Linked DNA regions of Homo sapiens: region 2 is linked to region 1. The links come from fine-mapping of genetic effects on gene expression. A gene starts in region 1. The other region holds a variant in brackets. All regions are shown on one strand. Distances are between the middles of the regions.

The links. PIP is the estimated chance that this variant, and not a neighbour inherited with it, causes the effect.
Region 2: its variant is the best candidate, but not a certain one, in a credible set for the expression of TMEM116 in fibroblasts (GTEx, PIP 0.58).

Annotation. Positions count from the first base shown.
Region 1 is chr12:112,010,792-112,016,167 of GRCh38, reverse strand. It overlaps TMEM116 (transmembrane protein 116), which reads left to right and starts at 3,003. Exons shown (of 11, transcript NM_001193531.2): 1 at 3,003-3,166. ERP29 (endoplasmic reticulum protein 29) reads right to left here and starts at 2,742. Exons shown (of 3, transcript NM_006817.4): 1 at 2,559-2,742. The coding sequence starts at 2,702. RefSeq lists enhancers at 1,269-1,408, 3,079-3,268, 3,139-4,027, 4,532-5,045 and silencers at 2,409-2,498, 2,839-2,918.
Region 2 is chr12:112,488,122-112,493,497 of GRCh38, reverse strand. PTPN11 (protein tyrosine phosphatase non-receptor type 11) reads right to left here. Exons shown (of 16, transcript NM_002834.5): 12 at 4,988-5,055; 13 at 4,323-4,474. It overlaps LOC124903024 (a long non-coding RNA gene), which reads right to left and starts at 4,314. Exons shown (of 2, transcript XR_007063467.1): 1 at 3,510-4,314; 2 at 2,074-2,480. The variant T/C (reference allele first, on the strand shown) is at 2,706.

The sequences.
Region 1 (5,376 bases):
TATGCAGCGCAGACGATCAGGAACAAAATAGACAAGGAGCTTCTTCATGAGCACATAATATTCCAGTGAGAGAGAAAGATGGCAAAATAGATTTTTAAAAAATCAGTGATGAGTGCTGTATGGAGAAATAAAACAGATTAATGTGACTGGCACTTTAGACTGGGGGGAAGATAAATCAAGGAAGAACTCTAAGGAGGAAACACTTAACCTAAGCCCGAATGATGAGAAGTAACTAACTAGCCTTTCAAAGTTTGGGCAGAGAATATTCCAGTCACAAGGAACAACTAGTGCAACATATCCTAAGGCAGTAAAGAGCAAGGAATATTCAAAAGACAGTAGGAGAATGGTTGGGAGATGAGAGGGAAGCCAGGAGTCAGGTCATATAGAACTTAGGCTACTGTGTGGAGACTCAAGAGTGGAAGCAGGGAGACCAGAGAAGAGGCTATTGTAATGTTGACCTAGACTAGGGTGGTAATAGTAGAAAACACTGTTAGCTTTATGGCGCAAAGTTTCCCTTTGGGTCACACTTGTTCTGTGATATTATCTGATTCCCATGGAGCAGGGTGGGGTAGGGGTGTCATTTTGCCAGTAAAGGCCCCCAAAGCATAGGGTGCTGTAGGGTGTGTCTGAGCATGCCTGACAACCAATCAGCCACACCTACACCATTTTTTTTTTTTTTGAGACAGAGTTTTGCTCTTGTTGCCCAGGCTGGAGTGTCATGGCATGATGACGGCTTACTGCAACCTCCACCTCCCAGGTTCAAGCAATTCTCCTGCCTCAGCCTCCCGAGTAGCTGGGATTACAGGCACCCGCCACCACGCCCAGCTAATTTTTGTATTTTTAGTAGAGACAGGGTTTCACCATGTTGGCCAGGCTGGTCTCCAACTCCTGACCTCAGGTGATCTACCTGCCTCAGCCTCCCAAAGTGCCGGGATTACAAGCATGAGCCACCGCACCCAGCCCACACTTTTTTTTTTTTTTTTGAGACGGAGTATTTGCTCTGTCGCCCAGGCTGGAGTGCAGTGGCGTGATCTTGGCTCACCGCAACCTCCGCCTCCTGGGTTCAAGCAATTCTCCTGTCTAAGCCTCCCGAGGAGCTGGGACTACAGGTGTCCACCACCACGCCCAGCTAATTTTTGTATTTTTAGTAGGGACGGGGTTTCACCTTGTTGGTCAGGCTGGTCTCAAACTCCTGACCTCAGGTGATCTACCCGCCTCAGCCTCCCAAAGTGCTGGGATTACAGGCGTGAGCCACTAAGCCCGGCCTACACTTTTAAATTCTTGAAACTTTGCCTTGAATGAGCTGCAAGTGCCAAATCCACGACAGGGAACGCTTGAAAATAGGAGACTTCAACCACTGGAGACAACTACTTCTTGGTTTCACTTCCCCACAATGAGTACAAAACCTGAAAATGAAATGACTGGCTCTCTCGCAACACTAAGCTTGCCCATCTCCTAGAGGAAGTTAAAAGCTGCTCGTGGGTGAAGACAGGTGCAAGAGGAGGGGACTGGGACTGCGGTGTTGCATTCAGCCACCATTTCCAACCGTCCATTTACTCAGGCCAGGATCCCTAATTCTGCAAAAATGGAAGGGGGGAAAGGCGGAGGTAGTGGCAAATTCTTCCATGCCTTGACCCAATTTTACTGATTTTGTTGCCAACCCCAAGATGTTTCCTACAACAGCTATCCCCAACCTTTTTGGCACCAAGAACTGGTTTCATGGAAGACAACTTTTCCACGGGGTTGGGTGGTTTCGACATGAACCTGTTTCGCCTCAGATCATCAGGCATTAGATTCTGATAAGAAGCACACAACCTGGATCCCTCACATGCGTAGTTCACAATAAAGGTCGTGCTCCTATGAGAATGTAATGCCGCAGCTGATGTAACAGGAGGCGGAGCTCAGGCTGTAGTGCTAGCTCGCCTGCCGCTCACCTCCTGCTGTGCGGCCCGGTTTCTAACAGGCCACCGACGGGCCTGGTGGTTGGGGACCCCTGCTTTACAGGGTGGCTGAACTGAAGCTTATTCTTCACGCTTGCACTATTCAAGATGTATGATATCTGATCATTGTTTGCACACTGCAAAGCAGGCTGCAATCCAACCCTGGGAAGAGGGGCGCGGACACGCAGGCTAACGCGCCTGCATTTCCCCCCGCCAACCCCTCCCAGCTTCCACAGCCGGGAGCCCGGTGGCGTCGACCTCGCACCGCCCTCCGGTTCTCCCACTTGGGACTCGAGGGTTGGATCTCGCCAGGCACCGCCCTCTCCCCACAGGTGAAGGGAAGGGGCACCCAGTTCCCTCGGCTGCATCTTTGCAAGGGTGGATGCAAGTATAAATGCTGCAAAAGCAAGGGTGCGCCGGGGCCCTGAAGCGTGCATGCCCGGTGGTCATAACATTCTCCGCTCAGAGTCCACTAGGCCTGTAGGACGCCGGGAAGCTCTGGGACCGTTGCTACAGACCACCTCCCGTCAGCTCCCGGAATCCAGCGTCTCCCCACGGGCGCGCGCTCTTCCGGGCGCCCCGGCGGCACCTGCGCGCGACGTCCCCCGCCCCGGTTACCTTGTAGAAAGTGACCGTATCCAGGGGAAGGGCGCCCTTGGTGTGCAGGCCGCTGCCGCCATGCGGAGCGGAGAGGAGCAGGAAGCCCAGGAGAAGGGGAAGCAGCGGGGAGAGAAATGCGGCGCGGGGCACAGCGGCAGCCATATCGCCGGGTTCCTGCAGAGGGAGGTAGGTAAGCGATAGTGGAGAACGCCCCGAGTCAGCGGTCACGTGACTGGGGGGGCGGACTCACGCGCGCTCACGTGGACACCCCAGGAGGCTCCCATCTGTCTAGGGTGAGAGGGTGGGGCCACGTGAGGGGCGGGGCGAGGGAGGGGAAGCTGCTGCGCACGCGTACTCGGCGAAGCTCGCGTAGGGCCTGGGTAAAAGGGCGGGGCCACGTTGCGGGCGGGAAAATGGGCTCCTGCGCGCGCGCACTCGCCGAGTCTTCCGGCGGGTCCGCCCAGTTCCGTTCCTGCTCCGCTTGAGGAGAAGCGCCAAGTGCGCATGGGGACGCTATAGCAATTCGTTTGCTGTCCTTCCTCTCCTTCGAAGATGACAAGGCCTACCATCGTTTCTTCCTGCCTTTGGGCCGTCAGGCAGTTGGTTGGGACCCGCTCCAACCCTCGGTCAGTCTATTAGTCAAGTTCAGCCGTTATTCTCAGTCAGGCTCCGTCACCACCCTGACCCAGGCGGGCAGTGGCTCCGCGGCTTCCCTGAGCTTTTTGGCCAGGCTTGGCGGTCAGTGTGGCAAGCAGGGCCCTCTTAGGCCCGATCTGAGGTGAGCGCCTCCCCTGGGAGACGCCAGGCTCCTGGGATCCGCCCAGCCAAGGCCCACCCTCCAGGAACCCCAGACGCAATTCTAATCATTCTGTTCCGCAGGTAGTCACTCGGTCCCTGGCTTGTGCCAGACTCTGGCTTTGCCTGCGGGGCTACGGAATAAGCAGAAACAAGACCGTTGTGTGCTGAAGGCACGCACTTTGTTGGGGGAGGAGGCGGCATAGGAATAATGATCTAAACAGTGCAGTGTAATTGCTGTAAAATATTATTCCGGCTGGGCGCGTTGACTCACGTCTGTAATCCCAGCACTTTGGGAGGCCGAGGCAGGTGGATTACCTGAGGTCAGGAGTTCGAGACCAGCCTGGCCAACATGGTGAAACCCCGTTTCTACTAAAAATCAGGCGAGTGTGGTGGTGCGTGCCTGTAATCCCAGCTACTCAAGAGGCTGAGGCAGGAGAATTGCATGAACCCAGGAGGCGGAAGTTGGGGTGAGCCGAGATTTCGCCATTGCACTTCAGCCTAGGTGACAGAGCGAGACTCAGTCTCAAAAAGAAAAAAAAAGACCGTATTTTCTTATTGTAAAGAGACAGAGATTCAGCCATCCCTGCTCAGGAGCATCAGAGGAAGTTGTAGACAGGAGGTGACTTTTGAGCTGGACCTTGAAATAAGAGGGGGCGTGCATGAGGCAAAGAGAAACAGGGCATTTCTAACAATGGGAAAATTATGCACAGGCATGTTGGGGAACTGGTTGAGATGAATCTATGTAAAGGCGAACTGGCGCAACAGCTGCTGCCGCTCTTTTTTATTTTGATTGATTATTACTGAGCTTCCATGGGGCGGATTCGAAAGGGTCTCACCAAGCTAAAGGGTTTGGAGTCACCAGAAGTTTTAACTAGGAGAGTGAGGTTAGATTTGTGTGTAGAAACAGCACCCAGGTCAGCCTGGGCAACGTAATGAAACCTCGTCTCTACAATAAGTAGAAAAATTAGCCATGTGTGGTAGTGCATGCCTGTGGTCCCAGGTACTTGGGAGGCTGAGGCAGCAGGATCACTTGGACCTGAGGGGTCGAGGCTGCAGTCAGCCCTGATTGCTGCCACTGCACTCCAGTCTGGGCAACAGAGAAGACTGTCTCAAAACAAAAACAACATTACTCAGGAATGAAGGAAATGGATTGGAATTGAGAAGACGGGACTAAAGCCAATTAATGGGGTATGGCAATAGTCTAGTTGGAAGAGGTTAAGGTCATGCAGTAGGACATAATAGGGCTGAAGAAGTATGGATGGAATTGACAAACTTTTAAAGGGTAGAATTCACAAGATTTGATGAACAAATGCATGTAAGAGAACATATACAATGCATTGTAAGGGACTTACTGCTATAATTAACCATTGTATGTTTCCAAAATGTATGTGTATAAATAGTCAACAGTGATAACAGGATCCAATCATGGACAACCAGTTTGATTGGATATAAATTTTGAAAGAAAGTGTGTGTGTGTTTGTGTGTGTGTATGTGTGAATGTGTCTGGGGAAGTTAAGAAAAATTTTGAGTTTGCCCTATTGATGGCAGCCAGCTGCAGCAGGGAGGTGTGACTGGGGCTGCACACTCCATGGAGCCTGTGGGAGCCCCGCCCCTTCTGAGTTGAGGCAGGAGCCCCTGGTGCCATTGTGGCTGCCCTCCCAGGTGCAGGACCTGGGCATCTCTGCAGCCTGCACCCTTGGGGGACCAGCAAGACACCCTACTGCAATCCCTGCAGGCTCAGGAGTGTCTGTTCCCACCGCCTGGACTCTCTCTACTCCCGGGGCCTGCTCCAATCTCAGAGCGGGCTTGGGGCCAAGAATGGCAATGGGAGGCAGATTGATTCCAGGGTAGAAGTGGGTGAGTCCCCAGTAAGACCCCACCTTCAGGTCAGGGAGGGCCTGAAGACAGGGGTCCAGGCTGCCAGTCCTGCAGACTGGAGTAGGGACTCGTGGTGCATCTTCTGGCCTGCCCATGGACCAATCGGCATGTACTTCCTCCCCTCGGAGGTCCATAAAAACCCTGGGTTCAGCCAGAGTAG
Region 2 (5,376 bases), 480 kb before region 1:
AGAAGCACCTGAATGAACCCAGGAGGCAGAGGTTCCAGTGTGGCAAGATCATGCCACTGCACTCCAGCCAGGGTGACAAAGTGAGACTCCATCTCAAAAAAAAAAAAAAAAAAATGTACACTTAAAATTTACTAAGAGTGGCCGGGCACAGTGGCTCACGCCTGTAATCCCACCACTTTGGAAAGCTGAGACGGGAGGATCATTTGAGGTCAGGAGTTCGAGACCAGCCTGGCCAACGTAGTGAAACCCCACCTCTACTAAAAATACAAAAATTAGCCGGGTGTGATGGTGGGCACCTGTAATCCCAGCTACTGGGGAGGCCAAGGCAGGAGAATCACTTGAACCTGGGAGGTGGAGGTTGTAATGAGCCGAGATTGTGGCACTGCACTCCAGCCTTAGTGACAAACCAAGACTCTGTCTCAAAAAAAAAAAAAAGTAACTGAGATGTTGGATGCATTATTTAACTCAATTTTGATAATCATTTCACAAAGTATACATATATCAAAATATCATGGTGTACACTTTATATACAGTTTTTCTTTGTCACTTATACTTTTAAAAGCGGGGGAAAGGCAATGATGGAAACAGAAAATTGCCATTTGGCAAATACCACAGTAATAATTTTTTCAGGCAAGAATTTAATCAATGAATATAAAATTAGTAGGCAAAAAGTATTATGAGAGCCGGGCGCAGTGACTCACATCTGTAATCCCAGCACTTTGGGAGGCCAAGGCGGGCAGATCACAAGGTCAGGAGATCAAGACCATCCTGGCTAACACGGTGAGACCCCGTCTCTACTAAAAATACAAAAAATTAGCCAGGTGTGATGGCGGGCGCCTGTAGTCCCAACTACTTGGGAGGCTGAGGCAGGAGAATGGCGTCAACCCGGGAGGTGGAGCTTGCAGTGACCCGAGATTGCACCACTGCACTCCAGCCTGGGAGACGGTGCGAGACTCCATCTCAAAAAAAAAAAAAGTATTATGAGAAATAGGTAATTTACGCAGTCTCCAGTATCTACCCACAAGATATTAACTTAAAAGGGAAAAATAATAACTTTATGGACAAGAGATTAACTTAAAAGGGAAAAATACTTTGTTCCTAAAAAAAAAATGTAGCAAAAATACTACTTTTTGCTACATTTTTTGCTACGCCTGTAGTCCCAGCTACGTTTTGCTCAAGTAACTTTACGGTGGACAAATTTGACAGACACCACCTTATTCAAGTGATCAAAGTTAACACCACTAGTAATGAATCAGATCAACAGTGTGTACCTGATGTGATGTACTAAGAAGACTACAACAACATTTCTGTGACAGTCCTGCCAAAAATGCATGACTAGAATATAGTCAAGAGAAAACACTGGACAAATCCAAACTGAAAGGCATTCTGCTAAATAGCTGGCCTAAACTCTTCAAAAACATCCAGGTCATGAAAAATAAAGAATGACTGAGAAACTGTTCCAGATTAAAGAGACTAAACATACTAATAACTGGCCAGGTGTGGTGACTCACGCCTGTAATCCCAGCACTTTGGGAGGCCAAGGCGGGAGGGTCACTTGAGCCCAGGAGTTCAAGGCCAGCCGGGGCAACACGGCGAAGCTCCATCTCTACAAAAAATACAAAACTTAGCCAGGCATGGTGGTGCACACCTGTGGTCTCCAGCTACTCGAGAGGCTGAGGTGGGAGGATCACCTGAGCCCAAGGAGGTCAAGGCTGCCGTGAGCCATAATTGCACCACTGCACTCCAACCTGGGCAACAAAGTGAGACCCTGTCTCAAAAAAAGAGAAAAAAGATACATTATAGCCAAATGCACTGTGTGACCCTGGACCCATAAAAGATACTAGCAGGACAAAATTTGAAGATGGTCTGTAGGTTAGATAATAGTGTTATATCAATGTTAGTTTCCTGATTTTGATCACTGTATCAAATAATTGTGACATTGGTTATGTAAGAGAATGCCCTTATTTTTAGAAAATATACACATTTTAGAATGTGTAGGCTTAGATTATTCATTTTTTAAAATGAAATGATATTTAGAGACAAAGGGGTATAAATGTTTGTAACCAACAAACATTTTACTTTTTAAAATTTACATTTTTAATTTTAAACAGAGAGAATAAACGAATGATAAAGTTAAGTGTGCTAAAAAGTTAACAGTCAGGAAAGCTGGGTAAAGAAAATTCCACAGACTGCTTTTGCAAATTTGAGGGTTTTTTTTTTTTTTTCACTACTGTAGTTGGAAGTTAACAAAAAAGTCTACCTCCAAGGAACTGGCAGAGTGTGAGAACTGTTTATAAAAACTTGAGAATTTTCTCAATCTTGCTTCGTTTGCACTTTCCCCTGGATTCCCACATCTGATTTTATATTCTTCCTTCCTTGTGCTGTTTCTTCTCTTCCTTCTCCACAGCTCTTCACCCATCATTCCTTTTTTTCACTGATCCTTCTTTAGCAAATTCTTTCACTCCCAAAGGTCCTGAACACTTCATAATTTTAGAAATGACTGTATTTTAGAATAACCAATTATCCTGAATGAGTTTTGTTCTTTTGCTTCATTTATAAATCAGCTGGGTTTAATGTTATGTCTGCCATTTAAACTTTCTACTAAATTAAGTACTTCTTACTTTACCACAATCAGCCAGCAAGCCAGTTCCCAGATTGATTCAAACCACACAACGCAGAAAACTATATATTGCAGGATTTCATTT[T/C]TTAAAATAAATAATTGAAGCCTACACATTTTTAAAACCCAGAGGTCACTGGGCTCAGTGGCTCACACTTGTAATCCCAGCACTTTGGAAACCCAAAGTGGGAGGGTTGTTTGAGCCCAGGAGTTCAAGACTAGCCTGGGCAACACAGTGAGACCTTGTCTCTACAAAATAAAGATAAAAAAATTAGCCGGGCATGGAGCCACAAATTTGTAGTCCTAACTACTCAGAGAGGCTGAGGCAGAAGCACTGCTTGAGCCTAGGAATTCGAGACTAGCCTGGGCAACATGGCGAAACTGTGACACTACAAAAAATGCGAAAATTAGCTAGGTGTGGTGGCGCATGCCTATAGTCCCAGCTACTTGGGAGGCTGAGGTGGGAGGATCGCTTAAGCCTGGGAGATTGAGGCTGCAGTGAGCCATGATTACACCACTGCACTCCAGCCTGGGCAACAGAGAGAGACCTCTCTCTCAAAAAAAAAAAAAAAAAAAGACATCCCTGAACATGCTCCAACTTGTAGCAACTATGTTACATTCTCTTTGTATTTACTAGGAGATCCTTCTCTTTGGGCAACTTTTTGCCTAACTATTCTTGAGCCAAATTAAGTATAATGGAAGACAGATATAAAATAAAGTAACCGTCTAAATATTTCATATCAGTTAATACAAATTCAGATTTAAAGCACTGAGGTTCAAATTTTGACCTTACATTTCTATACATACACTGTTTCTGAAGATGTCTATGTACAATAAAACAATCCCGTATGTCTGTGCGGACTGAAAACCTACTAAACTAATTAGCAAGTACCTTCCTTTGGCCAACCAAACTTTGATAACGTGGCTGCTGTTCTGCTAGGCTAGAAATCTTTCAAATACTGGTGGCAGGTCCCATTCTGAAAAGAGCTCAGCATTTGGAGAAGCTGAGTTCTCTGGAAGGCAACGAGCAGAGTAATGCAGGCACTCGCCACTGATGTTTAGACACCACCCCATCTGCAGCATGGCAATGGGGTTGAGGGGTTGGGGAGAGAAGCACAGCCCCCAAAAGAGCAGCTCTCCTCATTTCCTTCATCTCAGCATATTCCTAATTAACTCAGCTTTGTGCCTGTTATGAATAGCTTCAGATGGAAAGGCTCCAATTCCACATTCCTCTTCATTATGCACAGCTTATTAAAATTGAAATTTCACTGTTTCCAACTCGACCAAATTAGTGGTTCAAACTGCCGTGCGCTATTAAGAGTGAGGCATTCGTTTTAAAGGATGGAATCAGGATAAACATGGCCTGGATCAAGGCTGGAACAGGCTAGAAACTTCAAGGCTTTGAGTTTTACGCTTGCCACATGAGCCTGAGAACATCAGAACCTTTCTGCATGGCAGTTCTTCAATCTGGCAGGCCAGGCTGATAGGATGGTGCCCTTCCCTAAGCTCCTCTGCAGTGAAAAATCAGAGCTGAGAAGTGGAGAATAATTGACAGTTTCCAGAGGCCCTTTTAGTTGGGAGTTTGTTTCCCATTCCGAAATCAAACAGTTGTCTATCAGAGCCTGTCCTCCTGCTCAAAAGGAGAGCGTATCCAAGAGGCCTAGCAAGAGAATGAGAATCCGCATGCCAGCCCTCAGGCTGGTACCTGCTCTTCTTCAATCCTGCGCTGTAGTGTTTCAATATAATGCTGGACCGCCATATAGATAAATCGGTACTGTGCTTCTGTCTGGACCATCCCTGACCTCTGAGACCGCACCATCTGGATGGTTTTGGGAACGTCAATATCGCAGTCAACACCTACGAAGGAAACATCATGAAGAATAAAGAGAAACTGCAGAGCCAGGATGAAGTTGTTTAATGCACAACTTTTAGTGGACTCAGAGACAATGCTAATTTAGTCTTTGCTGTTTTAACTGAGCATGTTGCAATGGCTACAGTGTTGAACTTCTGACCAATACCAATGATCCCAGAAGACTACATAAATAACGAAGTGGCAGAAGTCAGGATTCCCTCACTTGCCAACAAATCACCCCATACTGTAAACAAGGTCAGGTGGCTGGATAGAGACCACCACTGTGTATGCAACAAAAGGCCATGGCAGTGGGTTCTGCAGCTCCTAGACTTCATTTTATGCCAAAAGCTCAAATAGTGTCACTTCTGTTCTCAGGCAGACACACTGAAGTCTTCAGCCCAGATTTTTGTGAAAGAATTTTCCCATTCAACCTCTCTTCCCCAGACTGTTTTCGTGAGCACTTTCCTTCCATAAACTAAAAACAGAAACTGTCGCTTCTTGCCCACCAGATGACCCACCTTTCTCTCTGATGATGTCAATAAGAATATCAATCACAATGAACGTCCCTGTCCGGCCAATTCCAGCACTGCGGGCAGAAGGACAAAAAGCAGGGACAACAGAATCATTCATGGGGGTTTCAGACTCAAAACCAAGCCATTAATATCAACAGAAACAATGTCTACTCTTTGGAGCTATTTATAAAATTGTCTATTTATGTTTGAAAATATGTTGGCAAAAAGCATAGGGCTTTGGAGTCAGCCCAAACCTGCTCTTGGAGTTCAGCTTCTCCAGTACAACGTGCCTGAGGTAAGTCCCTTAACCTCTCTGACCCTTAATTTCTGCATCTGTGAAATGGGGACAACAGCACATACCATACAGAGTGCTGGTTGGACAGAATGAAACAGGA